Regions from separate parts of the Homo sapiens genome. Here region 2 is linked to region 1. Evidence: fine-mapped expression QTL. A gene starts in region 1. The other region holds a variant in brackets. All regions are shown on one strand. Distances are from middle to middle.

Region 1 (16,713 bases):
GCACTGAATTATGGAGGAGACAAATGTTTTATACTTCAGCCTTCAAAAGGGTTATCATCTCAATGAGAAGGGGAAAATATATTAACAGTAAATCACTAACAGTATGGATCACATACCAAGGTGAATGATACAAGCTGTCATTAAAAAGCTCAGAGAAAGGAAGAGAGCAAGCTTCTTCTCAAACAGTAAAATGCTATAAATCACCTGATTGTGTAGGTCAGGAGAGGGGCCTGAGATTCTGTGATACGTATGTCTGCATTTCTAACAAACTCAAGTGTAGCCAACATTGCTCATCTTACTGGACATGGATCATACTTTGAATAGCAAGGTCTAATGAACATAAGAAAGGTAAAATTCAAATGTTCTAGGGAACAAAGTGGGTTCAACATGAAAAGTTTAACGGGAAGAATTAGCTTGATCTTGTCTAGGAACAATGAGACCACCTGACAGAATGAAGACCCATTCTTTCTTTATTTTTGTTTTTTTTCTTTTAACTCATCTGTATTTGTTACAACTTTAAGCAGAATGTGACTCAGGCACTACATTTCCATCCACAAGACTAGCTCTGAGTTATTTTTGAACAGCTTTACGACATGCTTAGGTAGGCTTATAACTTTGCTCCTCCAAATGATACTTTTCTTTGGAAAACAAGCCCTGTGGAGGGCTTACTTTTCTTTGGAAAACAAGCCCTGTGGAGGGACTGCTACATTACAGATACAGAGGAAGTGATGAAACAGGTCTAAAGGTAGGAAAGGAAGGGTTCAAAAATACAAGAAAAATTGGTCTTGGCCACTATCAATGTGCCAGGAAGGAACAAATGTGTTAAAACATCAGGCTAAACATAGGATGAGATTAATCTCTGGGTTCATCTACATCTATATATGACTGAGAATGGTCATGAGAGTCGGGACTGGGTTCTACCTTGCTCACCTATATAATATCTTATATAGGTTACTGCAATATACCCCAGCATGTAGCAGGGCTAGACCTGGCATGTGGTCGGCAATCAATAAATATTTGTTAAATGAATGAAGAACAGAATACATCTGGAGTATACAGATTCAAGTTAAACTATATGGAGAATTTTTAAAAAAACAGAGTAAGTCGATTAAGTCACATTTTTTATTCAATATGTGATGATGAAAGAGAACAATTTCAAAGAGAAAGAACTTCATGAACAAAAGCAAGGTCATGCTTACTGCTTTGAATAAGGATGTGACTCTAGGTCTGTCTTTAGCATGACTTTTTTTTTTTTTTTTTTTTTTCTGAGACGGAGTCTCGCTCTGTCGCCCAATCTGGAGTGCAGTGGTGCAATCTCGGCTCACTGCAAGCTCCGCCTCCCCGGTTCATGCCATTCCCCTGCCTCAGCCTCCTGAGTAGCTGGGACTACAGGCACCCGCCACCACGCCCGACTAATTTTTTGTATTTTTAGTAGAGACAGGGTTTCACCATGTTAGCCAGGACGGTCTTGATCTCCTGACCTCGTGTGATCTGCCTGCCTTGGCCTCCCAAAGTGCTGGGATTACAGGCGTGAGCCACCACACCTGGCCTTTAGCATGACTTATTAAAGAAAAAACTAAGTAGTCTGAGGGGCTGGAATGTACAGTTCCTACAAAGCTTGGAAAGAAAGGAAATAAACCTGAACATAAATGCAAGAAACAAGGACAACATTTTGGTCCTTCAATTCAATGGAAAGTCACTGAAAACATCTAAGGAAAGAAGTTAAAATCTGAATGTTCACGTTAAATAAACGTTTTAATAAAAGTATGAGGCCGGGCACGGTGGCTCACGCCTGTAATCCCAGCACTTTGGGAGGCCGAGGCGGGCGGATCACGAGGTCAGGAGATCGAGACCATCCCGGCTAAAACGGTGAAACCCCGTCTCTACTAAAAATACAAAAAATTAGCCGGGCGTAGTGGCAGGCGCCTGTAGTCCCAGCTACTTGGGAGGCTGAGGCAGGAGAATGGCGTGAACCCGGGAGGCGGAGCTTGCAGTGAGCCGAGATTGCGCCACTGCACTCCAGCCTGGGCGACAGAGCGAGACTCCGTCTCAAAAAAAAAATAAAATAAAATAAAATAAAATAAAATAAAAGTATGAATGGTAGACTGAAGAAGGCAGGGGAAAACAATATTAAAATAACCTGCATAAGATATTAGAACATAAATTAGTATAAATAATAAAATGGAATACATACTCATTCATTTATCCTACTTTGTGAATTAACAGGTTCAGCACTGGAGATAAAACAGGTGAAAAAGCATAGTCCCTGCCCTCAGTAGCATACATTCTGATGAGGAAAACAAAGAAGAAAACAAACAAGATAGTTACAGGCTGTGGAAAATTCTAGAAATATAGGGTGCTGTGATGGAAAGTAAGGAGAAGAACAAGTCTATAATTCTATTTTGTACATGTTAAATATGAGATGCCTATGAGATATCCAAATAGTGACGTCAAACAGGCAATGGGTATTCAAAAGAGGCATTCAAGAGCCATTACTGGCAGAAATATAAATCTAGGACTTATTAGAATATAAATATTTAAAGCCGTGAGCACAGATAAGAATACCTTAAAGAATACTACTATAATTACTGCAAATAAAGCAGCAGCAAAGCTTAAATGGTGACTTATTCTGTCCCAGACATTGTTCTAGTTATTGACATATATTCAATCCATTTAAAGTCTCAAAACAATTCAGATGAGGAAAATGAGGCACAAAGACTTGCCCAATGTCATGCAGCAAATTTCAGAGCTGGGATTCAAATCCAAGCAGTCTGGCTCCAGAGCATGTACTTTTATCAACTTCGTTACACTACCTATGTCAAGCAGAGACTAAAAGAAAAGCCAAAACCTAAACCATGAGGCACTCCAATATGCACAGATGGAGAAGAAACATAAAAGGAAAGGAGTAAGTGGCCTAAAAGGAAGGATAGTGATTGACTGGGGTCACACACCAATAAGAACCCTCAGGATTCAGGTATGAAAGCAAAAGAAAGAAACCATAAACCATGAAAATTGATAGGGATAGTGGCAATCATTTTGTGGATGAGAAAATGTACCTTTGGAGTAAAACAATCATAGAAGTGTTGTTAGTTACTGGTGGATGCAGACTGGAATGCATGTCTCCTGATTACCAGGAGCACTGAAGTGCTCTTTCTACAATTCCAATCTACATTAGCAAAGTTAGCATTCGAAATGATTTGAGAAACATTAATAAGGATGAGAGTGGTAAAGACACAGTAATCTGAGTGTTTACGATGACACAGGTACTATACTAAACACTTTAAATACCTCGGAATTTCATTCTCACAACCCTTATGAGTTACTACTTTATCATCATCCCCATTTTACAAAGGATACACCTGAGGCCTAGAAAATTTAATAACTTCCCCAAGGTCATGCTTACTGCTGGAATAAGGATCTGAATCCAAGTCTGTCGTCAAGATTCTCTTGGCTAGTATGTAATATTGCTTTCCTAAGAGTAACACTGTTCATCAAGACAGAAATGAAGAAAGAAAGAAAGAAAGAAAGAAAGAAAGAAAGAAAGAAAGAAAGAAAGAAAGAAAGAAAGAAAGAAGAGAAAGAAAGAAAGAAAGAGGGAGGGAGGGAGGGAGGGAGGGAGGGAGGGAGGGAGGGAGGGAAGGAAGGAAGGAAGGAAGGAAGGAAGGAAGGAAAGAGAGAGAGAAAAGAAAAGAAAAAAGAGAGAGAGAAGAGAAGAGTTTAAGGAAGGAGTTTTTTTTAAATTGTATCTGGGCAAACGTGGGTATACCTATCATCCATGTGGAGATAGTATTCAAGATGGATGATTCTTGGTTACTCCATCTGCAATAATCCATTAATAAAATTTAGAGTAACCAGTATTCCCTGTATTAACAATGTAAAACGCATAAAGAACATACCATTTAAATGTTCCCTACATGATTTATGGTAACTGGAAAACATTCACCATTAAAAAATGAGCAACCAAGATAAAAGAACCTTGCAACTGCAATATAATCTAGCTGCCTAAAACCATATAAATGACAGAAAGGCAGATGTCCAAAAAGGGGGAAAGTTGTTAGGAACTTATTTTGTTAATATCTACCCAACCGATGGAGAACAAAAGCACAGAGGTACCCACCACCGTGAATAAGAGATAATTCACTAAGTTCGTCAAGAATCTGGATATAAATAACTCTCAAGTAAAATAATCCTTTACCTGCTCTTATTATGATTGATTTTGGAGTCACTGGTAAGCTTCTGATTTTTTTTATTCGATTTCCAAGGTGCTTTGGTAATCAAAAGGGTCTTTTTGGTGGTAGATATGAGCGTTTTCACCACTGAAAAGGTATGTCTTCCACAGTAAATGAGTAAATCAACATTTACATGTATATAAACCAATCTCCTGTGAGAAGGACTAATTGGTTCCTTAGCATTAATCAATTCTGAGAGAGCTGATAAAAAATAATAATTTCTGAGTCCAAAAAATTGAGAACCAGTCTCTTGACTAAGCACCCTTGTGAAACCTGAAGTGATCCAGTCCATCTCCACCTGCAGGTCTCTGTTTAATTCAACAATCCCTCTTAAAGCTGCCAGGACATTGTTACTGAAGTGCTTTTACCACTGCCCTGTGTTAGATAGTATTTGGCACTTAACAGAATGTCCTAAAATATTTGCTAAATAAATGATCTCCAAATAGATTTATGCCACCGACCTGTTGCCTTTTTCAACTCTGGAAACTAAGTGATTCAAAGAGTGCTGTTGTGACATAGCAAATTTAATAAGAAATATGTTTCTAAGAAATAAACATTTCCCAAGTGCATAAGTGGTACTTATTTTAACAAGTGTAATCTAAGTCCACCCACTAACTTTAGAGATTTGCAATCTCTAAAGATACGTCATTTATTCCTGAACACACATCTGCCTCCCATGAGCCAGGGAAAGCCACAGTGCCAGTACACAGGCCAGATAGTACTCCATTTTCTTTTTTTTTTTTGGACGGAGGCTCGCTCTATTGCCCAGGCTGGAGTGCAGTGGCACAATCTCGGCTCACTGCAACCTCCGCCTCCCAGGTTCAAGCGATTCTCCCGCCTCAGCCTCCTGAGTAGCTGAGATTACAGGCGCGTGCCAACATGCCCGGCTAATTTTGTGTTTTTAGTAGAGACGGGGTTTCACCATGTTGGTCAGGCTGGTCTCGAACTCCTGACCTCCTGATCCGCCCGCCTCGGCCTCCCAAAGTGCTGGGATTACAGCCGTGAGCCACCACGCCCGGCCTGCATTTTCAAAGTATTACACAAGTGACATTTAGAACAAAACATTCCAAAGTTAATCTCTTGCCTGCATCTTTCAAACTCTGCTAACCACAGACATTAAACTCATAATAATAATCATAATTAACATTAAGTGATTACACTGTACTACAGGTCACCACATAAACTTTTTCATTTAATCCAAACAACTCTATGATACAGATACTTCTCATTCCCACTTGACAGATGAGGAAAGCAAAGCCTGGAAAGGCTAACTTGCCTTAAAGTCACAGAGCTGGTTAAGTGGAAGAGCCTAGAAGACTGAATGAGCTCTTAACCACCAGGCTACACTCTTGTATCCAGTTTAACTAAGTCAGTTCAACAGATTCAATTATATGCTGCGTTTAAATTATCAACAGTTTCCACTTAAAAATACCTGCTTGCAATTACAATTTTCACATGAATTTAAAAGTACTTTCTTATTACAAATATCTAAGATCTGCATTAATAGGAAATAACCTTTAAAAAAATCAAAGGAAGAGAGGATGCTTTTTAAAAAGAGGGCAGGAAGGATACTTTTAAAACTAGAACGTCATATAAATGCATTTTGCTTCGAAACAACAGAAATAAAATTTCTCATTCTAGATTTTCCTCTTCCCAGCTAAGTCCATTTCCTTATCAAGAATTTCCTTGGATGTCCTAGTTCATGAACCTTAACTACTAAATACATTTAAGGCCCTTCTCTTTGATATTCTTTTATGTTTTTCAGAATGAACACTACAAAAGAGTATTCTAAATTATACGGTTTCAGATAAAGCGCCGAAGTACAGGCTCAAAAGAGTGGCTACAAAGTACATCTCCACTTGGAACGTTATAGATGTCAGATCCCAGCAGGGAATCAGTGGAGTTTCCTTACTCTCTCCTTCCCAGAGCCCTACTAGGTCCCTAAATCCTTCTCGACACCTTCGTTAGCTGCTGGTCTCCAGGAGTCTTTCTTCAAATCCCCCCACCGGTCATCTCAAAACAAGACCCCAGGAACCTGTCACTCACACCCCTATTCTCAGTCCCCTTCCTGAAGCCCCAACTGTCCCGTTAGAAGACAAGAGAAGGCTGTCGAAGCTCCTGAACAAAAAGTGAAGATGAAAGAGAAACGTACTAGGGAAAAACTTTGGCCCAGCCACACCAAGCCCAAGGGGGAGAATGCTAGAAAGTACGTCTGGTGGGACGGGGCTGGGAACTGCGCTCCCCACGTGGGCCAGAGGAAAAAGAACAGCACTCACAAGGCCATCTATCTGCACTTGCTTCACGGCTGAATCTCCCGAGCCGCCTTTGCCTTTGCCTTTCCCTGCTGCGCCGGCGGTGGAGCTGGAAGAGGTGGCAGTAGAGCCGGTACCTTCCTTGCGGGACGCCATCTTTCCAAGCAGACAGGAAGAAAGAGAAACGTGAGTTACCGGAAGCGGAAGTACAAGTCTCGCGTGACGTCACTCGCAGGCCGGCGTTCGAGGGGCGGAGACGGAAGGAGAAGCCAAAATTGGGCCCCGCCTCCCTCCTGTTTTCCAGTTTTACCTTCTTTCCAGGCGGTATCCTTTGTGCATGCCTACTGTACATTTTCGACCTCTTTCCGATGGAATGATCTAAGATGAAAGTAAACTTTTTAAATGTTTAATCATTCACCACTAGGCAAACCGTCATAATAGCATTACAGTTCGCATTATTTCTGTAGTGTCTCTTATGTAAAAATGCTTTCATTTCTGATCTTGCAATGAAGTGCTGTACTAACTCGCATTATGCATATTAGAAAACTGATAAGTGATTTGTCCGACATTATTCTGTTAATTAGCGATGAGCCAGTATTGCACAGCTTGTTTTACGTAATTTTAGATAGCTGCTTGTAACCACTTAGATTATATAGAAATTAAGACATAGAAACTTTTATCAGAATTACCAGAAATAGTAGCCTTTTGCTATTAGCTTCATGTAGAGATTTACCTGAGTAAAGTACCAAAGAAGTTATCTGAGGTATTGTTGAAGGATGATACAGAATATATTTTCTAAAAATCACGCTGATTTATGACACATTACTCTGAAATACACATCTCAAGTCCTTAAAAGAATATATGACAACTGTAAGAAGCCATTTTAGATAAGTAATTTGAAACATTCTTTTCTACTTCCAAATGACTTTTTTCCTATCCCTTATTTTTGAAATGTTTATTCAATAAATATGTATACAGAACTGATGAAATAATTAAATCAATAAACGGCATATCCTGCCCTGAAGTTTTTTGTTGTTTTGTCATTGGGATCTGGTGTTATATTTCAATCTGGGAGGAGAAATAGTTACATGTTACAAATTCTTAACACTACAAAATGAAAAGTTAATATCCACTCATTTCAAGTGTATATGAAATATTTATTAAAATACACCAAACCCTAGGTCACACAGAAAGTCCACAAATTTAGAGGTTTTAAAGGTTGATCCTGGTAAAATTACACTAGAAATTGGTAACAGAACATTCACAAAAAGAAGAAAGAAAATCTCGCATGGAAGAACCAGACTGGAGGTTTTTGCCTACCACTAGGTAGCTGGAATGATGAGCATTAGAAAACAGTGAGGCTACTTATAAACAATAATACATTTATTTATTGCTTTATCCTACAACATACATAACACAGTTTTGTTTCAGAATTACAATACCAATATCCTCATAGCAGTAAAACTACAAAGTAAAGTTTAAAATATTTTGCAATTTTTTTGTCCTTGAAAATATCCAACTAAGGTTTTGCAGCCACGTGTGCTAAACATACTACAATGGGTTATTTTCATCTGTCCTGAGACAGTTCATGTGGGCCCTCTTTATGAAATACACTAGATGTAAGAGGTACAACTGAGAGAGAGAGAGAGAGAGGGCCAGAGAATATGAAGAATTTGAATTAGAAATCAATATGATCACCTTGACAAGAAAGGGCCCAGAAGCATTGACATTTCCGTCACTTCGGTTCCTAATTTCATTCCTATCTCACTGGCTACCTCCTTTATTCTCAGTTCCCATTGCTGATTTTTCTACCCCTTTTCAACCTTTAAATATTGAAGAGCACCAAATTTAGACTTTGAACATCTTCTTTCCCCTATTTTTGTTCTCTTTTATGGTGACCTCATCCAAGCTTTACAAAGAGATACACTCAAAATAATGTAAATAAATCAATATATTATTTAAAATGTTCAAATAACCCAGAAGAATGAAGAAAAAGAAAAGAGAGAAATGAAAACAGAGAGAATGAATAAAAAATAACTTAAATGGCAATCTTAAGCCCAAATATATTAATAGTTATGTTAATTTTTTTTTTTTTTTTGAGACAGAGTCTCCCTGTGTCACCCAGGCTGGAGTGCAATGGTGTGATCTTGGCTCACTGCAACCTCCGCCTCCCAGGTTCAAGCGATTCTCTCGCCTCAGCCTCTTGAGTAGCTAGGATTTCAGGCACCCACCACCCTGTCCAGCTAATTTTTGTATTTTTAGTAAAGACGGGGTTTTGCCATGTTGGCCAGGCTGGTTTCGAACGCCTCACCTCAGGTGATCCGCCCGCCTCAGCTTCCCAAAGTGCTGGGATTATAGGCGTGAGCCACCGCACCTAGCCAATATAAATGTTTTAAATATACCAATTAAAGGAAAACAATTGGATGAATGAATAAACGGATAAAAACATGATCTATCCATAGGCTATCTATAAGAAACTCACTTCAAACATAGTAATATAAGTACAAAGAAAGTAAAACGATGGAAAAATATATCATGTAACCACTAATCAAAAGAAAGCAGGAGTGGCTATATTAATATCAAATAAGGCAAAATTCAGAGAAAAGAAAATAATCAGAGACAGAAGGAGACATCAAATAATGATAAAATGATCAATCACAAAGAACACATGAGAATTCTCAATGTGTATGCCCCAACAGAAATCAGAACCTATGTGAAGAAAAATCTCATAGAGCTGAAAGGAAAAAATGGGCAAATCCATAATTATAGTTGGAGATGTCAACTCCCTCTCTCAACAATGGATAAAACAACTATGGAGAAAATCAATAGGATATAAGGAACTCAACAATACCATCAACCAACAGGATCAAATCAGCATTTATGGAACACTCAAAGTAGAAAATACACACTTTTTTGAAGTGTCCATGGAATATACAGGTCATATCCTGAACCATAAACAAACCTCAGCAAGTTTAAACCTCAACAAATTAAATAATTTCTGAGTTGAAATTATTCATAGTATGTTCTCAAATCACAATAGATTTAAAGAAGGAATTAAAACATAGGATAACAAAATTTTCTGAATATTTGGAAACTAAACAACATACTTCTAATAATATTAATCCACAGATCAAAGAGGAAGTCTCCAGGAAAATTTTAAAACATACACACAAATTGAACTAGATGAATATGAAAATATAAAATATTAAAATGTGTGGGGCACAGATACATCAGTGCTGAGAAAGAAGTTTATAGCTAACTGCCTACATTAGAAAAAGGAAATGTGTCAAATCCATCATCTAAGCTCTCTAACATCCTAGACAAAAAAGAACAAAATAAACCTGAAGTATGCATAAGAAAGTAAATAACAGATTGTAGCAGAAACTGAATGTATTTAATCACTTAAAGATGGTTGGTCACAACCATTAAGTTGTCTTTCTGGCCTCCCATAAGGAAGTTCAATATTGTGGGTATTAATTTCATTGTGGATATTTATTTATTGTATGAAATAAATTTATCTTGTATTCGCAACAAGATGTTCTTCATTCTCTTTGTCACAGAAACTAATGTTTTTAGCATACTTCTCCAATTGCTGGAAATATTTCTAATTTAGTTACAGGCAAAAAGAGAGAGGCTGATGAGGGCCTTCCAAACTAAGCTGTGGGCGCTGCCCATGTGTGATTACTGCCTGGGGACAGGAAGCAGAGGATAGCCTGTCACACCTGAGTGAGCAAATAAAAAATAAACAGTCTAACTAGTTCAGCTTTTGTGGCATAATAACTCTACCCACTAGAAAAACACTGCCCAGTAAAAGTCAGGCTGTGACCATTCCATGCCTCAGAACTACCCAGTATTGGAGCTGCTTTCCCTCACTTGGCTAAGACACTTAAACCCCTTTCAATGCAGTAAAATGAGTCAGGACACCAAAGATGAGCCCCTAAATGTTGTTAAATGTCATTTTATTACGATAGAGAGTGCTAACTTACAACAGAGAGTATACATTTCGGGGTTCACCTGGCTCGTTCTATATTCAGATGAGCCAAAAGATGTGTGGGGTGTGTTTGTGTATGTGTGTGTGTGCGTGTGCGCGCGCACACACGCACATGCTTGCCGTGTCTTACTTTGTTGCCCAGGCTGGAGTGTAATGGCACGATCTCAGCTCACAGCAGCCTCAACCTCCCCAGGCTCAGGTGAACTTCCCACCTCAGCCTCTCGAGTAGCTGGGACTCCAGGCACACAGCACCACACTTGAATAATTTTTGTACTTTTTGTAGATAACCAGTTCCACAATGTTGCTCAGGCTGGCCTCGAACTCCTGGGCTCAAGTGATCCTCCTACCTTGGTTTCCCAAAGGGCTAGGATTATGGGTGCGAGCCACCATGCTCAGCCTGCCAATTTAAATTATTTTAAACAAGAGGGAAATATATGCTATCATGGATCTGGATGTCTAGAGAAGGGCATACTCCAAGTGAAGCAGCATAAAGACTACAGTTTCATTACTTCATGACTCTCTGGACTCTGTCTCCTGCCATGTTTGGGTTCTGACCAAAGACTGGCTACCACTATAATCTCAAGCTCACAGTAGCAATTGAAACAATACACTTTTTGTTTTGTTTATTTTAAGGAAACCTCTCCCCCAGTCATAGAAAAAAGATCTTGCTCATTAGCCTCATTGAGATCAATTTAAGTCATAGGCCTCCTTTTGTCTACAAATGTGAAATAAGACTATGGGAGGTTATACTTTGAAGAGCTAGGTAATTTGTTCAGTGTTATGAAAGAAACTACAGAGAGTATAAAGTTGGAGCCAATAAAAAGAAAATAATATTCATTTACACATAAGAATTAGCATGTGGTCATTTTCTGTATGTTTGCTAAAATAATAATAATTTTTAAAATGACATTGGACTTTTCATCCCAGTATTTTGATTCATCACTTACCAACTAATATTTAAACAAAGTAATCTTGCAGTAAAAAAAAATTTGAGAGGATTGTAAGAGTGACTTTTATTTTGTATAATATCATGTAATTAATACTTCATATTGGTGTAATTCAATTATAAATACTAGACTTTGAAATAATATTCTACTGGATTATTGAAAGCATGTTTAATTTCTTGCCACCAGGAGTTCAGTTTCTGCCCTGAGTCCTCCTGCTGCTTAAAAATATATACAAAACCATGAGTGAAAGAGTTGGCTTCAACATTTTGTTAAATATAAATAGTGTTTTTTAGAAAATCCTTTTAAAGCTGTAATCTGACATAATTTCCAATCTTTAAACTTCTTTAAGTAACAGTAATAATATTTGGTTACCTAGAGTAATTTTATAAAGATTCATTAATCTTCTAAAGTGCTTTGATAGATTAAAATGAAAGACCCATTTAGTGTGAACTTCTCTATCAGTTTGAATAATAATTAAATTTCAAATGGCAGTTTGCTTTGCATTACAGTAAAACATGTTTGCCACTGGTACTATTTCTTAACTTTTTGCTCTGCTCTACCAGTTTTTATTTTCACCATTTAAATTAATGCCATTAAACATTTTGTAGTAAAATGCCAATGGAGAGCACTATTTAAATCTGTTAGAGACGGGCTGGGTGAGGTGGCTCACACCTGTAATCCCAGCACTTTAGGAGGCCAAGGTGGGCAGATCTCTTGAGGTCAGGAGTTTGAGACCAGCCTGGACAACATGGTGAAAACCTGTTTCTACTAAAAATACAAAAATCAGCCAGGCGTGGTGGTGGGCACCTGTAATCCCAGCTACTCAGGAGGCTGAGGCAAGAGAATCGCGTGAACCCGGGAGGCAGAGGTTGCAGTGAGGCGAGATTGCACCACTGCACTCCAGCCTGGGCAACAGAGTGAGACTCTGTCTCAAAAAAATAAATACATACATACATACATACATCTGTTAGAGAAATAATAAATTTCTTTCAATTTACCTAACATGGTAGTATTTGTTCTAAGTATGATTTCATCCAAATAAATTATTACAGAAAGCAAACTTGCTAGTCTAATTTTATAGTGATCCGACAATAGTCATCTGATAACTGATGATGGGCACTTCCTGTTTACTGTCTAGTTTAGAAATATCCTCGAGAAACAGAAATCTCTTGAAATCTTTTTCTAAGAGACAGCTTCTCCTTTGTCATTTGACCTGAAAGAAGAGCTCACTGATACTGGCAGGACCTATATACATGAATTCCGCTTGCTTTCTTTAACTGACAACTGGATGACACTAACATTTCCTTGATGTTCCTTACCCAAGCAGCTGGGGCTCTTCATATTTAACTAACTTTTCTCAACAGGAGATATATCCCACTGACACACCAAATTCAAATCAAATTGTTTATACTTTCAAGAGAAACAAATGTCAAGACAGTTTCTATAGTATGTAAAGAAAGATTTGGTTTATTTAACTTGGAAGACTTTCCACCTTTTAGAGGAAACATATAAACTAGTATTTTGAACCTGTTCAAAGGAAGGGCAATTGTATTGACTGACATCAGCTAACATCAAGGTCTCATCAAACATATTTGTTCATATAAAATTATCTAATTCTGGCAAGTAGTTTTAACTTCCTCTATCATTTAGCATTGAGTTTGGCTACATATAAAATAAACTTATGATAACTTTTTTTTAAAACCAAGGTAGAAGTTTATTTTTCTTCTCATGTAAAAGAAATCCAGAAGTAGAAAGTCTATGTTTGGAAAGACACTTTCACAGTTGCGAGCGATCCAAGCTCCTCTTATCTGCTTTGCCAGTGTTAAGTGAATGACCTCCATTCTCAAAATTACCTCATGGTCTAAAATCGGTTGCTGGAGTTAAAGCTATCACATCCAAATTCCAGGGAGTAGGAAGGAAGGAGATATAAAACACAAAAGTGCCCACTGCCAAGCTAAGTTGACTTCCTTTAAGCCGGCTTCCCAGAATTCCATGCAACACTTACACTTACATATCTTTGGCTAGAACTTAATCCTGTGGTTCTACCTAACTGCACAGAATGCTGGGGAATGGGCTGGCTGCTGTGGCTCACGCCTGTAATCCCAGCACTTTGGGAGGCCAAGGTGAGCGGACCATTTGAGGTCAGGAGTTCGAGACCAGCCTGGCCAGCCTGGCCAGCATAGTGAAACCCGGTCCCTACTTAAATATACAAAAATTAGCCGGGCATGGTGGCCTATGCCTGTAATCCCAGCTACTTAGAAGGCTGAGGCAGGAGAATCGCTTGAACCCAGGAGGTGGAGGCTGCAGTGAGCCAAGATTGTGCCACTGCACTCCACCATAGGCAACAGAGCGAGACTCCGTCTCAAAAAGAAAAGGAAAAAAAAAGAATTCTGGGGAATGGATTTGCTTATCTGGGCACATTACACTCCAGAATAAAATCAGGAGTCTATTCCTACAAAGAAGAGAAGAGATATTGGGTGAAAATTCATAGTCTGTGTCATATCTATTATGTTATATTTGGTGGTTTTGTGAGAAATGTCATGCAGCCATTAAAAATAATGAATGAGAACTCTGCCAATTGACTTTGGGTAGATGTGTGTAGGGATTTCTACAGGATTGTTAGGTGAGAAAAGCAAAATGTATAGAATTGTTAAATATGATTCAATTTCGCATAACAGAGTATCTCTACATAAATATTAAATTGTATATATATGCATATGATATATCAATATGTAAATATGGAAACATTGCCAAGAGATACATAATACATCATCAAAGTGTTATCTGGGCAAGGGGAGAAGAAATTACTATCTTCATGTTCTTCCACTTGTTTTAAGAGGCATATGTTATTTTTGTAATTTGAAATACATAAAGTTTTTGTTATTTTATTTTATTTTAAAGATTATTTTAAAAAGTGACAGCCTCCATATCTGACCTTTGTAACACCTTCTGACATATTTGAAATTTCACAGTAAGGCATTCCATGATGGAGCCTATCCTAGGGGATCTTAGCGAAGAACCTCATAGGACCTCAATACAAAGTGCTTTACCTAAGTTGTCGTAAAATATTTATTTAGCTAAATTATTTATTTAGGCAGTATGTTAGATAATGTTAGGTAGAAATTGTTTTTGAGCTAATGAATGTTAACAAATGTTTATAAATATTTAGATATGAATATAAGGAAGAATAATACCACAATAGATATGTTAGCTAAATTGTCTAACATTTACGAAATTAAACAAAATTATACTAACATTGATGAAATTCAACAAAGTAACCTTTATGAATTATATTTAATGTTTACCTCTTTAATTCCATTTAGGCCATGAATCTTTCATGAGAAAGTCCTATTTGGGAATTAGTCATACGTTTCAAAAATAAATTATTCTCATGTCAACTTGGCTTCATCAAAATTTCATGAAGAAAAAAACTTCAAAATCATGTACAACAGCATAATATTATAAAACTATATTTGATCCAGACATAATAAAATGAAGAACATAAAAAATAAAGAAAAATAAATTAATCGCCTACTTACTCCAGCTGAATGTGGATTTCTATTTGGCATGGAAAATGTCCAGTGGACTGACCTGAGAAAAAAGCTAAAAACTAGCAATGCTGTTATAAATTATTGTTCCTTCAGTATAAGGTCAAAAAAATTTCAATGAATATTAAATATTTTAATAATGACATAACTTTCAAAATAAAATTTCAGATTTAAATTTATATCCAAATGGTTCACTCAATAATGGCAGTATTTGGCTTCTGCCTTGGTTGTGGCTAAATATTGATTTTCCATTACAGATCATTTGGCATCTAAACAAAAGTGTATTAAGTGGACCAATTAATAAAAATATCTTATTGGATAAACGATGCTTTATTACAAAAAAGGTCCTTCAGGAACACTAATGAGCATAATAATGATTTGGGGAGATTGTAATAAATGTCACTTCCTCTTTGAATAGTACCCCTCTCCCTCAATACTTATTCTGAATCAGAAATGGGCATTTTAAACAAGCACACTAAGAGCTTTTTCTGCATATCCCAGGACCTTGTTTTGAGAAACACTGCTGTAATAGAAAACTCTATTTTTTTCTCTTTTTGTCTTCTTTTAATTTAGCAGAGACAGGGGCTCCCTATTTTGCCCAGGCTGGTTTCCAACTCCTGGGCTCAAGTGATCCTCCCGCCTCGGGCTCCCGAAGTTCTGGTATTACAGGCATGAGCCACCATGCCCGGCCGAAAACTTTGTTTTAAACTTGATAATCACCATTATAGACCATCTTCATGTTTTCATAATAAAGATAGGGTGCAAACTGGCACTGTCATATACATAGAGCTTGGGGAAAAAATGTGCTGTAGCTTGGTAAATTAAAAAACGACAACAAAAACTAAGATAAGACTAAAATCCCTAGTGCTGCACCACATTTTTCTTAGTACTGAAAAGTGGCCAAGGAGCTGGTAGATAAATCTGAGGCTATTTAAGAAAAAATGTTTTAACTGTTTTGCAAGACTCAGGTGGTATCTCGTTTCTCTGTCTGTGGTGGGCGCATAGTTGGAGTAGAGAGTTGGCATACAGGGATAAAAAGAGGATTCAAATTGAAAAGTACTGAGCAATTACACTCAAAGACCTTGAATCCAACCCTGCAAAAGTTTTCATGGCTTCCAATTCCTAAATTCATTTTAAGTTTAAATGAAAGCAACCATCTAAGTGATGTGCTGGGACTCAGATCAGGGCTAACATTATAGATCTTATTCCAATTTCATAAACCTACATATTGAAATAAAACCCCAAATGCAAACAATGCATTCAATCACGTTGTAAATCATTTTCTGTGCTGGTTCTTTCAATCTTTAGCCAAAACTAGATCTGGGACAGATTCCAGGCAAGGACAAAAATGCAAAATTCCATACTCCCCATTCTTTGATTATTTTACCTTGAAGTGGATACTCGACAGTTAGCCACGGGAGAACTTGAAATTTTCTGATTCATTCTCCTCATTAATCAAATTGACCAAGTAATTTTTAAACCTCCAGTCAGCTTTGTGCCTTCCTGTTACTGGCCCAGTATGTAGTCTTCCTATGTCAGAGACCATGCACATAAAAAGAGTACTTGAAACTTATCTAGACCTACAACCAGTTTGACAGTGAGGAAGTTGAACCCAGCTTTCTTCGGGAGTTGCCCAAGATCAAACGGCTTGGGTTTGTGGCAAAACCAGGACTCAAGGTTAGGAATTCTGACTCTAGGCAAACGAAGCTCTTGAGAGTTCTTCCAAAACACTCCATGCGAGTGATT
Region 2 (16,713 bases), 46 kb after region 1:
TCCAGTCTATCATTGATGGGCATTTGGGTTGGTTCCATGTCTTTGCTATTATGAATAATGCTGCAATGAACATACGTGTGCATGTATCTTTATAGCAGAATGATTTGTGTTCCTTTGGGTATATACCCAGAAATGAGATTGCTGGGTCAAATGGTATTTCTGGTTCTAAATCTTTGAGCAATTGTCACATTGTCTTCCACAATGGCTCAACTACTTTACATCCCAAGCAATAGTGTAAAAGCGTTCCTATTTCTCCGCAACCTTGCCAGCACCTGTTGTTTCTTGACTTTTTAATAATCACCATTCTGACTGGCTTGAGATGGTATCTCATTGTGGTTTTGATTTTCATTTCTCTATCAGAGATATTGAGCTTTTATTTCATATGTTTGTTGGCCGCATGCATCTCTTTTTTTGAGAAGTGCCTGTTCATATCCTTTGCCTACTTTTTAATGGGGTTGTTAGTTTTTTTAACTGTAAATTTGGCTTAGAGTTTTTAACCTCTTCTATAGTGGTTGTATCTTCCCTTGGCTTCTTTCGGAAATCCTGAGGAAGACTGGCAATCCTTCACTTGGCAGAGAACTAGAAGCTTTCATGGTACCCCAGTGGTGGTGGATATATGACCCAGCAGGTGTGGCAGACAGCAATCTTAATGTCCAAAAAGCAGTCATGGAACTGTCACTGAAAAGACTTCAATGACGATATCTATCAACAGTGGTGCTTTGCATGTTGATATACAATTTGCCTAGCATCATTTGGGAAAAAACTATCCTTTCTCCTTCAAGTTACCTTTGCACCTTTGTAAAAAAATCAGTTGAAAATAAATGTGTTGGTCAATTTTGGGGCTGTTTGTTCTGCTTCATTGATCTATTTGTCTATCTTGATACCAGTACTATACTTTCTTTTTTTTTATTACTGTAGCTTTATTATGCTATCATAAATGGGATTGTTTGCTTGATTTCTTTTTTGGATAGGTTGTTAGTAGTGTATTAAAATACTGTTGATTTTTGTATATTGATTTTATATCCTGCAACTTTACTGAATTTATTATTTCTAACAGTTTTTTGGTTGAGTCTTTAGGATTTTTTATATATAAGATTATGTCATCTGTAAACAGATGCAATTTAACTTCTCTCTGATTCGGACACCTTTTCTTTCTTTCCCTTACCTAATTTCTCTGGCGAGAACTTCTAGGACTATGTTCAATAGAAGTTGTGAGAGTAAGCATCCTCATCTTTTTCCTGATCTTGGAGGAAAAGCTTTCACCTTTTCACCATTGAATATGATATTAATTTTGGACTTGTCATAGATTGCCTTTAATGTGTTGAGGTACATTTCTTCTATGTTTAATTTGTTGAGAGCTTTTATCATGAAAGGATATTGTACGTGGTCAAATGATTTTTCTGCATCTATTGAGATGATCATATGGCATTTATCCTCCATTTTAGTAATGTGATTTATCACATTTATTGATTTGTATATGTGGAACCATAGTTATATCCCAGAGATAAATCTCTCTTGATCATGGTAAATAATCTTTTTAAAGTGCTGTTGAGTCAACTTGCCAATATTTCATTGAAAACTTTTGCATCTATATTCATCAGAGATGTTTGCCTATAATTTTCTTTTCTTATAGTGTTCTTATCTGGCTTTTGTATCAGGGTAATGCTGGCCTTGTAAAATTAGTCTGAAATCTGAAAGTATTCCTTCTTCTTCAGTTTTCTTGAAAGAGTTTGAGAAGGATTGGTATTAGTTATTCTTTTTTTTTTTTTTTTTTTTTCAAGATGGAGTTTCACTCTGTTGCCCAGCCTGGGGTGCAATGGCATGATCTTGGCAACCTCCACCTCCCGGGTTAAAGTGATTCTCCTGCCTCAGCCTCCCAAGTAGCTGGGATTACAGACATGTGCCACCATGCCTGGCTAATTCTGTATTTTTAGTAGAGACAAGGTTTCACCATGATGGTAAGACTGGTCACGAACTCCTGACCTCAGGTAATCCACCGGCCTCGGCCTCCCAAAGTCCTGGGATTACTGACATGAACCTCCATGCCCAGCTGGTATTAGTCATTCTTTAAATGTTTTGTAGAATTCAGCCATGAAACCGTCTGGTCCTGGGCTCATCTGTGATGGGAAATTTTATATAACTGATTAAATCTCCTTACTCATGATTGATCTATTCAGATTTTCTATTTCTTTATGATTTAGTCTTGGTAAGTTGAATGTCTCTGGGAATTTAACAATTTATTCTAGGCTATCCAGTCTTTTGACTTATAATTGTTCACAGTAGTTTCTTATGATCTTTTGTTTTTCTGCAGTATCAGTTGTAATGTCCCTCTTTCACTTCTAATTTTAGTTACTTGAGTTCTCTCTTTTTTAGTTAGCCTAGCTAAAGATTTATCCATTTTGTTTCTCTTTTCAAAAAACCAACTATTAGTTAAATTGATCTATTTTTTTCTAGTCTCTATTTTGTTTATTTCTGCTCTGATCTTTGTTATTTTCTTCCTTCTACTAACTTTGGGCTTAGCTGGCTTTTCTTTTTCTGGTTTCTTGAGGTAACCTTAGTCTGTTTATTTGAGATCTTTCTTCTTTTTTTTAATAAGTCATTTATTGCTATAAATTTCCCCTCAAAACTGCTTTTGCTATATTCCATAAGTTCTGGTGTGTTTTGTTTCCATTCTTGTTTCTCTAAAGATATTTAAAATTTTTCCTTTTCATTTTTCTTTTGACCCATTGTTTGTTCAGGAGCATGTTGTTTAATTTTAGTTTCAATTTTTCCTACATTTCTCCTGTTACTGATTTCTAGTTCCCCTTCATTTTTTAAACAAATTTTTATTAGGTATAGAATTCTAGGGTGATAGTTTTTATCTTTTAGGATTTTAAAGATTTTGCTTCACGTTCTTCTAGCTTTGTATTGTTTCCAATATGTAACCTCTGTCTTCTTTTTTTTGTTCCTCTATATTTAATGTGTCTTGTTCATCTGGATGCTTTTAAGGTTTTTTTTTTCTTTATTACTGGTTAGATGCAATTTGATTATAATGTACCCTTGTATAGTTTTGTTCATGTTTCTTAAGCTTGGAATTAGTTGAGCCTAGGGTTTGTGAGTTTATAGTTTTCATCAAATTAGAAAAGTTTTCCACTATTATTTCTTCACGTGTTTTTTTCTGCTTCTGTCCTTTCTTTGCTGGACTCCAGTGGCACATACATTGGGTTTCCTGAAATTGTCCCACAGCTCAATGATGCTCTATTTTTTTTCAGTGTTTTTTCTATTTGTGTTTCATTTTGGATCATTTCTGTTGCTATACCTTCAAGTTTATTAATCTTGTCTTTTGCAATGTTCAGTTAGCTATTAATTTTATTCAATTGTTTGTCTTTGTGTTTTTTTATTTCAGACATTATAGTTTTCATTTCTAGATGATTGATTGGGGTCTTTAAAAATTTTGCATTGTCTTTATTGAATGTGCTCCATCTTTTCTCTGGCTCTTGAACAATGGAATACATTACAATAAGTGTTTTTGTGTTTTTCTCTACTAATTCTATATCTGTGTCATTTATGGGTCTGTTTCCATCGACTGGTTTTTCTCCTCATTATATTTTCCTGTTTATTTGCATGACTAGAAGTTTTAATTAAATGCCAGACATTGAAAATTGTACCTTGTAGGGTGGCTACACTTTTCTATTCCTATAGATATTGAGATTTTTTTAGGCAGTTAAGTTACTTGGAAACAATATCATTTTAGGTTTGCTGTTAAACGTTATTAGGTGAGATCACAGTTGTGTTAAGTCTGAGGCTAATTCTGCCTCACTTTTTTGGAGCACCTACCCAACATTCTGTAAATTGTGATATTCTTCATTCTGGCTGGTAGGAACAGGAATTTTTTTTGGTGGGGGGGGCTCTGTTTGAATTCCAAGTGTTGCCCCTTATAATGCTTTCAAATGGTTCTTTTCCTATCCTTAGGTAGTTTCCTTACATATAAGCTGATCAGTACTCAGCTGAAAACTCAGGCACCCTCTGCAGATCTCCCAAGTTCTCTCTCTCCGCAGCTCACTCATCTCTGGTACTCTGTCCTGGGAACACGAGCCAGCTTATCTCTCTGGACTTCCAACTTTGTCTCAGGAAGTTTGATGGGCTCCCCTTCCATGCTCTGTAGCCTGGAAACTCTCTCTAGGCAGAAAGTTACAGCAACTGTAGAAGTCATTTCATTTCTTTTTACTTCTCAGGAAACATATCTTTGTTGCTGATGTTCAATATCTTGAAAACCCTTATTTTATATATACTGCTGTTATTTCAGCTGGGTGAGTAAATCTAGTCCCTGTTATTCCATCTTGGTTAAAAACAGAAGTTTCTCAACTGTGGTGTTTTGAGACTTCAATCCTAAAATATTAGTGATATTTGGAAATGAATGGGTGGAGGTAAGAGGTCAATCATGGGTTAATTTCCAAAGAAGAGGAAAAACTGCATGGATATGTACAAGGTTAGTCCAAATGGGAATATTTGAGTTATTTGTTTATTAGTGATGAGTCTTCTCTCTTTGGTGGTGGAAGTTCTATTGACTAAGAAGAGCATATTTTTCCTTATGGTCTCACTGTAGATGGGGCTATATAAAAGCAAAAATACCAGGGACGATCTGTCTTCCAAATCTAAATCTAGGGTAGTTTGGCATATACAGCATTGGGCCTTATTCTCTCTGGAGACTCTTGTGTGGGATAATTATTATTATTCATAATAGTAACAGCCATTACTTCTTGAGCACTTTCTATGTACAGGAATCCTTCTATGTTACACAAATTTATATAAGTATACAACAATCTCAATAGGTAGATACTTTATCATCAGTTTTTAAATAAGGGAACTGAAGTTCAGATAGATAAAATAACACACCACATGTCTCATAGCTACCAAAGTTACAGTTGGAATTTAAACCCAGATCAATATGACTTCAAAGCCAAAATGCTTATATAGTATGGCATGCTAAAGGAACTCTATACAGCCACTTTAGAAGCTTCTTGAGAAGATCCTAAGGAATCAAGAATTCCATAGCATTTTTACATCTCCACACACATTTAGCAAAACATCCTAAGGAGGAAGGGATAGAGCTGGCATTAACCAATATTGGCCTGGATTGAATCAAACCTAGGGAAGAGAAACTAGGGGACTTGAATGGGGCTCTCACTCATCGTAGATGCTTTTGGAGTTCCAGGGCACTGTCCGAATTTTAACCTTTGAAATCTAAACCCAAGTTGAACAGAGATTGACAGGTCTTTCCGAGAAGAAATCTCATGTTTGCCGAAAGCCTGGGGGAAGAGTTGGTCAAGACGTCATGTCGTTCCACTTTAGCAAAGTACTTTGAAGATAAAATCAAGAAAGTTGAATTCTTATTATGTTGGGTAAGAGCTCTAAAGTTCTGTTGCTAAGGCCAGGAGTCAATTGAATTTAATTCAACAAACATTTATTAAATGCCTTCTCTATGCCAGACACTGTTTTAGGGTGGAAAATCAAAGAAGAATAAGACACAGCCCCTACGCTAGAGGAAACCAAAGGTCTAGCTGGGAAAGTGGGTGCATAAACAAATAATTATGATAGGATGGGATAAAAATGTACACAGACAACTCTGAGGGTTCAGAGGTGGGGCCAGGGAACCCCATCTGGGGTTGGGAATGTTACAACAGGATTCTGCAGCCTTGTGTGTTTGCTTCATGAGCAGCATTTAGAGTTTTAAGATTTTTAGTATTACACTAGACTTCCTAGGGCAAATAGCAGTCATGTCACTTTCCTTTTGTTTTTGGTGATTCCAAAGCCACCATGCTGGGAATATACTGAGAGGAGAAAGGAGAATTCAAAATAGAGTCAGGAGCTTGTTCTGCCTTCAGTGTGCTCTGTGATTTGAGTGTGCCACTGGGCCTTTTAATTATCAAAAGGTGTTGATCTTGTGAATACACATTGCTAAGTCACCTGTTGGATATTAATAGCAGAAGCCAAGAGTTTACCCAAGGGAGTGATGAGATCAGAATTCTATTATTAAAGGGTGACATTCTCTTGCTGTGTTGAAATTAGACTACACTGTGATTATATCCTACAGTCCTAGAAAACAACAGCAACCAAGCTACATTCAACTGTTAAAAGTGTTATTCATAATACCTCTTATAGCAAGCTATACTTATTCCTTCCTTTAAATTAAGTTGCCTTTTTCTTATAAAAGTAGCATATGTTGATTAAGTGGAAGTACAGAGCCAATTATTGTGTTAGTTTCCTATTGCTGCTATAACAAATTAACACAAATTTAATGGCTTTAAATAACACAAGTTTATTCTTCTGGAGATCAGAATTCTGAATTGACTTTCCCAGGCTGAAGTCAAGGTGTGGGCAGGGCTCATTCCTTTTAGAGGCCCTAGGGAAAACCTGTTTCCTTGCCTTTTTGTTGCTGGGGGCTACCCACATTTCTTTGTAACCTCCTTCCCTCATCTTCAATTTTGCTTCTGGCATCATATCCCCTTTTCCTCTAACTCTGCCTTCTCCTGAGTTTTCTTTTTTTTTTTTGTTTTTTGAGACGGAGTCTTGCTCTGTCGCCCAGGCTAGAGTGCAGTGGCGCAGTCTCGGCTCACTGCAAGCTCCACCTCCCGGGTTCAGCCATTCTCCTGCCTCAGCCTCCCGAGCAGCTGGGACTACAGGTGCCTGCCACCATGCCTGGCTAATTTTTCTTGTATTTTTAGTAGAAACGGGGTTTCACTGTGTTAGCCAGGATGGTCTTGATCTCCTGACCTCATGATCCGCCCGCCTCAGCCTCCCAAAATGCTGGGATTACAGGCTTGAGCCTTCTCCTGAGTTATTATAAAGACCAGTCTGATCATATTGGGCCAACCCAGGTAATCCAGGATAATCTCTCCATCTCAACGTCCTTAATTTAATGACATCAGCAAAGTCTCTTTTGCCATATAAAATAAAATTCATATGTTCAAGGGATTAGGATATGGAGATATTGGAGGGGGTTATTCAGTCGACCTTAACTACTGTCTATGTTTTGGAGCATTTACTTAATATTCTTCTCGAATTTATATAATTCAGATTATTCTGTATAGATACATTGATGTTATGCCTTTGTCATTTACCCTTGTATTATTTGTCCATCCGAATAAGTTTTTTGAAATAATACTTTTTGACAGCTGTATAATTCTTCTGTAGGGATATATGATAATTTATGAAGTCATTGCATCACAATTTGGACGCAATCGTTGGAGCAATCATGGTTCTAAGAGATAGAGTCCAATTCAACCTGCTTAAGCAAAGCAAGGAAGTTATTGGCTCTGGCAATCCAATGCACTGTTAACAACCAGACTCCATGGGATTCAGCAGGGCTTCAGGGGCCACTGCAACCATGGATTCTAATAGTGCCAGGACAAACTTCATCTTCATGTCCTTTTCATGCCCTCTCACATGTTATGATCTCATCCACTAGAGAGGCACTAGCTGACCACAAGCCCTTTGTTTAACTAAGTCAATCCAAGCCCCTTAAAAAAAAAAGAAAGAAAGAAAAACCCCAGTTTCTTTCATCATGGCCTGAATCTAATCTCAGGGAGTTCAATTGCAGGTCTTGGTGAGCTGGGTCCTTGTCCCTATCAGCAATGCCTGGCAGCTTGTTAGAAATGCGGAACTCAGGCTCCACTCAGGACATAGTGAATCACAGCCTGCATCGTAACAATATCCCAGGCAGCTTGAATGCCCATGGATGTTTGTGAAGCACCGTTCTAGTAATTGCCTTAGTTCTGTCTTTAGATTTTTGTGGATGTGGA[C/A]AAAGCCTGTGTTGACTGACCAGCAATCAAGGTTTATAGTTGTAGGAGAGGAACAGGTAAGGGCGGTTTAGCAAGACAGAGCAAAAACAAATAGTTTCACAGATTTTTGAGAACCATACTCATAAAAATGATCATTGCCTCTGCACAGCAGTTTCTTGCACCATGAGGCAGCTAAATCTGAATAGCCAAGACCTGCAGCTGTGTCATCTGTAAGTTGTCTGAAGCACCTCAGGAAAATATGGTCTTGCCAAGTAAATCTGGTATCTCTCTGGTTTAGGCTCTGTCCCTGCCTGGTTCACCCCAGAGAGTCAGCTGATTTGTCCTTCCATGTGTTTGCAATTAAATGGGTGGACAAGGGTGAAGCCAGCACAATCTGGTATCATTTTGTTGATTACCTATGAGGCTTCTTTTCCATTCTACAAACATCACCTGCAGGGACTTACATCTGGGACTGTTGTGATTCCTACCTTTTTGTTGTTGTTGTTGTTGTTGAGACAGAGTCTTGCTCTGTTACCCAGGCTGGAGTGCAATGGCACGATCTTGGCTCACTGCAACGTCTGCCTCCCGGGTTCAAGCAATTCTCCTGCCTCAGCCGCCCAAGTAGCTGGAATTACAGGTGCCCGCCAGAAAGCCCGGCTGATTTTTTTTTCGTATTTTTAGTAGAGGCAGGGTTTCACCATGTTGGCCAGGCTGTTCTTGAACTCCTGACCTCAGGTGATCCACCTGCCTCGACCTCCCAAAGTGCTGGGATTACAGGCGTGAGCCACCGTGTCCAGCCCTCCCATCCTCTTAAGAAGCACGTAGTTTTCACACTGTTGCTAGCCAGGGAAACAACCTTGAGTAACACGTAGAGGAAACACTAAGCAAATTTGCAGAAGAATGATTTTAAAATATTCTTCAGATAAAATAATTGGTAACATGTATATGACTAGGAAATACGGACCTTGGTATCAGATATGTCTTACTGTCACAGAGTAAAAAAGGGCATAGATTCCTCTATATCTGGGTTCTGTGGTGCTAGAGAAGGATTTAAGGAACAGCGACAGTCACTCTGACATATTAACAAAACGTTTTCCAATGGCTTTTCTTGTAAAACAAATATAAGTCTCATTACCAGAAGTAGAAATAACATTAGAGGTACAATGATATGTTTCAGAGAATGGAAATCATCGCATTTTCCTTCTGATATGGCTTGGCTCTTTGTCCTCACCTAAATCTCATCTCTAATTGTAATCCCCACGTGTTGAGGGAGGGACCTGGTAGGAGGTGATTAGATCATGGGGGCGGTTTCCCTCATGCTGTTCTCATGATAGTGACTGAGTTCTCACGAGATCTGATGGTTTAAAAGTGTTTGGCAGTTCACCTCATTGCTCGCTGTCTTGCCTCCACGTGAAGAAGGTCCTTACTTCCCCTTTGCCTTCTGCCACAATTGTAAGTTTCCTGAGGCCTCTCCAGCCAAGCAGAACTGTGAGTCAATTAAACCTTTTTCTTTCTACCTAAATTATCCAGTCTCAGGCAGTTCTTTATAGCAGTGTGAAAATGGACGACTACACCTTCTAATACACCAGATAGGAGGTAGAGCTCTAGGGATCTTTTGGACCATAGGTGGAAGGGAAGTGCGGTATGGGGAGCAATGTTGGGGGTATTTATAAAAGGGCAACATGAGGGATCTTTGTGTGGATGGGATGGAAATGTTCTGTATCTTGACTGTACTAATACAAATGACCTAGTTGTGATATTGTACTATATGGTATGTTACTACTGGAAGAAACTGCATAAAGGGTGCCTGGAGTATTATTTCTCACAATTGCATGTGAATCTACAATAATCTCAAAGTAAATTGTTTAATTAAAGCATTGCGCTGAAGTAGTATCTATCTTAATTACTGAGGGTTTTTTTTTTTTTTTTTGCAGCTTCTTAAATTTTTCTCCCATGGCTAGTTCCTCTCCTGCCTCCTCTCAATTTCATCCCTACTCAGGCTGAGTGCCTCGTTCTAGCAAATAAATATGGGGCAAATAAGGTATCCTCCCTAGCCTCAAATTCCTCATCTGCAAAATGGGAATGACGGGAGTTCTCACTTCCTAGGGTTTTTGTCAAGATTAAATGAGATAACGCATGTAAAATAATTAGTCCAGGGCCTGGTATATAGTAAATTCTAGTTAAATGTTAGTTATATAACCATATCGGAACACGGTAATCAGAGTGTCTATGTAAAAATGTGCACACATGGTTACAGGGGATGGGATTAGAAGGAGCGTTCATTTTGTTTAATGACTCTACTTCCAGGTGACAGGGCCCGTGTGGGTCCTAAAAATGCTGTGTCCTCTCGGGGCAGGCTTCATGGGTGTGTGGCTTGTGCAGGCTTACAGGGTCACATGCTGGGTTTTATGTTCTGCTATGTATTAGGGATTAATACGACGTGTGTATATATGGAAGGGAGTTTGTTAAGGAGAATTGACTCACACAATCACAAGGTGAAGTCCCACGATAGGCTCTCTGCAAGCTGGGGAGCAAGGAAGCCAGTAGGGGCTTAGTCTGAGTTCAAAAGCCTTGAAATCGAGGAAGCTGACATTACAGCCTTCAGTCTGTGGCTGAAGGCCAGAGAACCCCTGGCAAACCACTGGTGTAAGTCTAAGACTCCTGCCCTGGTGTCTGATGTTAAGGGCAGGAAGCATCCAGCATGGGAGAAAGATAAAGGCCAGAAGACTCACAAGCCAGCTTATTCCACCTTCTTCCACCTGCCTTTTCTAGCAGCGCTAGTAGCCGATTGGATGGTGCCCACCCACATTGAGGGTGGGTCTTTCTCTCCCAGTCCACTGACTCAAATGTTAATCTCCTCTGGCAACACCCTCACAGACACACCTAAAAACAATACTTTGCATCCTTCAATCCGATCAAGTTGACAATATTAACCATCACATGCCGTCACCACTTTTCAACAAGAGGCCACACATTTTTTTTCTTTTTTCTTTTTGGTGCTGGCCCACAATTATGTAGCTGGTCCTGTCTCCCCTTAATCAAAGTCAGTGTTTCCCCAGAGAGGGCAAGACTGATAGTCACTAGCTCCTCTTCAGAGTAGAGGACAATGGGACTTCTCCCCAGTATCCCAGCAGCCAGGGCTGTTAGTTCAACTCAATTAGAGGGAGTTCTGCTCGCAGAGCTGTTCTACCATAGCCCCTTCTTTTTGTGCACCTCCTCATTCATTCGAAGAGTCTCCTCAGATCCCACCACAATAACTACTCTCACATGAAAACTTTGTTGGCCTGTGAGTATATGGGTGGAGGGTTTTCCCTCCAACTTTGTGGGTTTGGGTGCTTTTGCTTGATCGTTTCTCATTAGACAGAAAAGATTTTGTGGACAGGATTAGAGCTCTGCTCAGCCACAGTTTAAAAAAAAAAAGTTGGTCTTGAAGAAACAGGAGGCTTAAGACAAAACACACATAAAATCACTAACCTTTCACTTTAATGGTCTTTCCAAATTGTCAAAACCACTGTGGTCTGTCTTGCTCACAAGAGGCATTCTTGGGGTTTACAGACACTGAGTTGAGAAGGAATTTCTCTGTTGGATGGCTGAGGATGCAGCCAGTAAAATGATCCTGTGGAGCAATATTGCCCTTGGAGCAGACAAGTTTGAGTCCTGTTTGTCCAGGTGCAATGCTTGTGTGCAAATCTGTCCACTCAGCCACTCTGCCATAAGGGTCTGTCAAGACAGTCAGGTGAGTCCTGGGCTGGCCGGTTTAGCCCTGGGGAGGCTGCACCTTGCACGGAGCTGGCGGGAGCCAAGAAGGGGGCCTGGCTCCTCTTTGTGAAATGATGTGTCTGGAATAACAAAGGGAAGAAATCACAATGAAGGGAACCCACAGCATATGAGTTCCTACCAAGCTGAGAAGTGATGAAAGTGAAAAGAAAACTTAAGCTGGAGTTCAAACTGTGGCTAGGGTTATGACAGTTAATAAATCAGTGAGTCTGGAAAATGTTGTCTCAACAATAAAATTAGGAAGTTGCAATACTGTCATTAAACTAGTGTTATTGGCCGGGCGTGGTGGCTCACATCTGTAATCCCAGCACTTTGGGAGGTCGAGGTGGGAGGATCATTTGAGCTCAGGAGTTCAAGACCAGCCTGGGCAACATGGTGAAACCCCATCTATAAAAAATTAGCTGGGCATGGCGGTGCATGCCTGTGGTCCCAGCTACTTGGGAGGCTGAGGCAGGGAAATCATTTGAACCCGGGAGACGGAGGTTGCAGTGAGGCGAGAGTGCGCCACTGCACTCCAGCCTGGGCAACAGAGTGAGACTGTCTCAAAAACAAAAACAAAAAACAAAAAAGTAGCGTTATTAAAAAACAGTAATAATTAATTTGTGTGTGTCTCCTCTCTGCAGATGTCTTTAATTTATTCATCAGTAAGGCTTGCCTTCTCCAGGAGAGAATGTGGTATATTAAAATGGTAAATAAAAGGGGTTCTGTCATTTGCTCACTGAGTAGATTATTTAAGATCTCTGAGCCTCAGTTTATCCATCTATAAATTGGATTTAGTAATAACTGTATCTATAGGTGGTAGTTTTCAAATATTTTAGCAGCAAGCTAAGAAATATCTAATATTACAATGTAATATGCTAGATACATACAACCACACTTATATAACTGAAACAAAGCTTTTATAAAGTAGTGTGTCCCATAGCTGAATTTGATGCACTTATATTTTTTAATGCTTCTTTTTCCATCACATTTTATTTAGAAATACTGGTTGTGACCCATTAAAGTGGTTTCATAACTTAATATTTCAAAAATGCTATGGTAGATTAATCTGCCCATTAAAAAAGATATTATACATAAAGTGCTTAGCTCACAAAAAAAGGCCAATAAATATGAACTTCCTTCTTCCTCCTTTGGGAGCCAAACTTACAGCTACAATTTGTACTTTGGGTTTCTGTGACATTTACATGTGTGATGCTTATAAATTTTCATAATATAGTAAACTAAAGATATTATTTTGGGCTTCTCAGTATCAGTGTTAAATCGATCAGAGCTGATGACAAGCAGTTAGAAACTTTTGACTATTCACCAAGAAACTTATATGATCCTGGGTCATATTCAATCTACAATACACCAACAATCCAAGAAGTAAACATTTGCAAAGGATTACTACATATGAATTGTTAAAAACTGCACCAGGTGCAGTGGCTCACACCTACGAGGCCGAGGTGGGAGGATTGTTTGAGGCAAGAAGTTCGAGACCAGCCTAGACAACATAGGAAGACCCCATCTCTACAAAAAAGTTTTTAAAAATTAACCAGGCATGGTGGCACCTGCCTGGAGGCCCAGCTACTGAGGCAGAAGGATCACTTGATCCCTGGAGATTGAGGCTGCAATGAGCTATGATCATGCCACTGCTCTCCAGCCTGGGCAACAGCAAGACCCTATCTCAAAAATAAATACATTAATGAATGAAAATTGCATGTATGTTCTCAACCCTGGCTGCAGATTAGAATAACTTGGGGGAACTTTTAAAATATGATCAATGCCTATCCATTCTCCAGAGATTCTGATCCAAATGGTCTGGATATAGCCTGAACATCAATCAGTATTGTATTATCTAAAAGAGACTCAGGTTAACCCAGCATATAGTCACATGCTGGACTGGTTGAGGAACATCGGGTTACTCAGTGCTGAGATTAAGAAGCTGATATGATAACTAAAACTAGATATAATAATATAGTGAGAAATTTTCACCATTCCCAGAACCTCCTGTGCCCATCAAACGTTGTACCGAAACAATTTCTGCTGAAAATCAGTTCTGGCAAGTTGTTTGAATCATTGTACGTATTCACGAGTTAGAAAAAGAAATTGCCTAGGAAATATTCTCAATGCAAACTTCTTGCTAATTCTGACTGGCTTGTTTTCTGAGTTAGTGTGAACTGTGAGATCTAACTGCTCATTATCCTGTCTTCACGGGTAGCCTCGGGAGGGTAGAGACAGTCCTGCTGTCTCAAAATCCTGTCTTCACAGGTGGTTTCAGGAAAGTAGAGACAGTCCTGCTGTCTCAAACCTGGTAACAATGGCAGCTAATAATAAGTCACTTCCCCCTCTTTGTCTCCATCACTTTGGTTCAGTCCTCTGCTGTCACACCCTGCAGATTATATTGTACTCAATCTCTTTCCAATCTTTCTTCACTCATAGGCTGTGAGTCTTCAGGGCACTCACCATGTTTTAGACACCTTTGTGTTTCCAAGACTTAGTACAGGGCCCAAGTTGTTGCAGAGGCTTAAACATGTTTTATTTTATTTTATTTTTTGTAAAGAGATGAGTTCTTGCTATGTTGCCCAGGCTGAACTCAAACTCCTGGGCTTAAACCATCTTCTCGCCTTAGCATACCAAATAACTGGGACTACAGGTGCATGCCACTGCACCCAGCTTGCTCAACAAATTTTATTGAATGAATAAATGAAGGATTTTGGTGCTCAGAGCAGGTCCCTGGCTCTCTGGGAGGACAGAACTGAAGTTGCCTTTTACCGTGTCTTTTGATCTGTTTCTTCTACTACTCAGCCCTTTTGCTGGAAGGATGGGTTTTCTTTATCATGTCAAAAAGAAGTGGGTTTTTTGATCAATATTAAGACACCATAAAGAATAAAACCCTCTGCCGCAGAGTCCCTCAGATTTCATGGTGGATTTCTAGTTCCTGGGCAGCAGTGGCACTGCCAGCTGCCTCCTGGTTTGGAAGCCAACACCACACTGCAGGGAAACCAAATCTCCTGAGAACCTAAAATCCTTCAAAGGCAGTGCTCCCAGGCTGGAGCTGGCATTGCTATTCCAGGCTTGGGGTTCTGGCCATTGACAGTGATTATGATTTAATACACCACATTGGTGAAGTAGCAATTCAGGAAATATTGTTTTTAAAATCAACCACGAAACTTGGTTGATTTGTCTTGGAAGTTGAAATCCCACATTTTAAGGATGGATGAGTCTGGGTGGTCCTGGTAGGAAAGCAAAGGAGAGAAAAACATTACAAACACGAAATGCGTATGTTTGATTTCTCTGCTTCCCACTTCCAGGAACATTTTAACCCTTAGTAGCTTTTTACTTCTAATACAAACTTTAGTTTCTTTCATTTTAATTTGATTTTTTTTTTTTTTTAATGACAGGATCTTGCTCTGTCGCTTAGGCTGCAGTGCAGTGGTGTGATTATGGCTCACTGCAGCCTTGATTTTCCAGGTTCAAGCAATCCTCTCACCTCAGCCTCCCGAGTAGGTGGGACCACAGGGGCGTGCCACCACACCCAGCTAATTTTTGTATTGTTTATACAAATGGGATTTTGCCATGTTGCCCAGGCTGGTCTTGAATGCCTGAGTTCCAGTGATCTGCCTGTCTTGGCCTCCCAGAGTGTTGGGATTACAGGCATGACCCATTGCACCTGGCCAAAACATTTTTATTTTAAAAACTTTTTTATTTTACTTCTAATATGATCATCAAAGCACTATAAACATCCTCGTTTTTTAATTCTTAAAATTTCCCTTATCCTTAAATATCTCCTCAAGAACACCATCTCTACTGAGTCCAGCAATGTTACCAGGAATTTTTCATGGTCTTTGGTGCATCATCTATGTCTGTCAGGGTCCACCACACTCTTCTCTGTTTACAGAAATCACATTATGCCCTGTGCACAGCAGGCTCTCAGGGAACACACTAAGTGTTCAATGAGGTGAATGGGATGGAACAACTCAGCCGTTTCCACAGCCTGCTCAAGTGTTAAAGTGAGTGAGAGTGTATTTGGCAGAGGTACCGAGGAGTCTTTCAGGAAATGAGGTCCCATCTCGGGGTATTTTTTGCATGAGACAGCCTGTCATTCTGGAGCTTTAGTGACATAACTGGACATGTCTGGCCCAGTATCACACTGACCTAATAATATAAGACCACAGGGTCTGCTCCATCATGGATTTGTTGAAGCCCTCCATGCCTTCATTTCCTTATCCTGGTGATGAGCCTAATACCCACCCCACAGGTGTTGATGTAGTGAACGTGAAAGTTCTGGGAGCGGTTGTGAAAATAAATTCTCTATAAACCCTCAACTGAGTGGAATTTCTGCCCTTTTTAGGCCACACATAAAATCACAGCTTTTCCAAGTTCCCGTTGATGAAGAAATAGGACTAAATAGGCATCCTGCAAAAAAAAAAAAAAAAAGAAGCTCTTTTTTCCCAAATTAAAATTGGGAGTTCACTTTTTTTTTTTTTTTTTTTTTTTTTTTTGAGACGAAGTCTCACTCTGTCACCAGGCTGGAGTGCAGTGATGCCATCTCTGCTCAGTGCAACTTCTGACTCCTTCATTCAAGTGATTCTCTTGCCTCAGCTGGGATTACAGGCGCCCACCATCACGCCCAGCTAATTTTTGTATTTTTAGTAGAGACGGGGTTTCACCATGTTGGCCAGGATGGTCTTGATCTCCTGACCTCGTGATCCACCTGCCTCGGCCTCCCAAGTGCTGGGATTACAGGCGTGAGACACTGCGCCCGGCCACATATTAATATTTTTATTTATGTTGATGACACATGCAAGCAATGCACCTCTTGGTCTCTTGGGATCTGGTTTGTTTCTATTGGCATCTTCCAGCTAGACTTGATTTGCATCAGGTGAGCGCTCCCTCTAACAGCAGGCTTAGGTTATGCTGATTGGAAAGGAAACTCTGGAGACCTGTGTGGTTTATGCATTTATTTGCCTGTGCATTAATACATTTAACAAACATTGTGCACTCACGTTTTGCCAGGCTCTGTGACAGGTGTTGGGATACAGAAACAAAAGAGACTGTCTTTGACTCGTAAGAGCTCACATTCCTGACTGGGCGTGGCAGGAGAATTGCTTGAACCCAGGAGGCGAAGGTTGTGGTGAGCCGAGATCGCGCCATTGCACTCCAGCCTGGGCAACAAGAGCAAAACTCCATCTCA

Evidence for each region.
Region 2: its variant is fine-mapped to the expression of EIF3H in whole blood (TOPMed, PIP above 0.99).

Annotation. Positions count from the first base shown.
Region 1 is chr8:116,749,161-116,765,873 of GRCh38, forward strand. EIF3H (eukaryotic translation initiation factor 3 subunit H) reads right to left here and starts at 6,663. Exons shown (of 8, transcript NM_003756.3): 1 at 6,506-6,663. The coding sequence starts at 6,637.
Region 2 is chr8:116,795,267-116,811,979 of GRCh38, forward strand. All of the region lies in intron 2 of LOC112268030 (a long non-coding RNA gene), which reads left to right. Among named protein-coding and RNA genes, the nearest start is that of UTP23, 37 kb to the left of the region's middle. The variant C/A (reference allele first, on the strand shown) is at 7,782.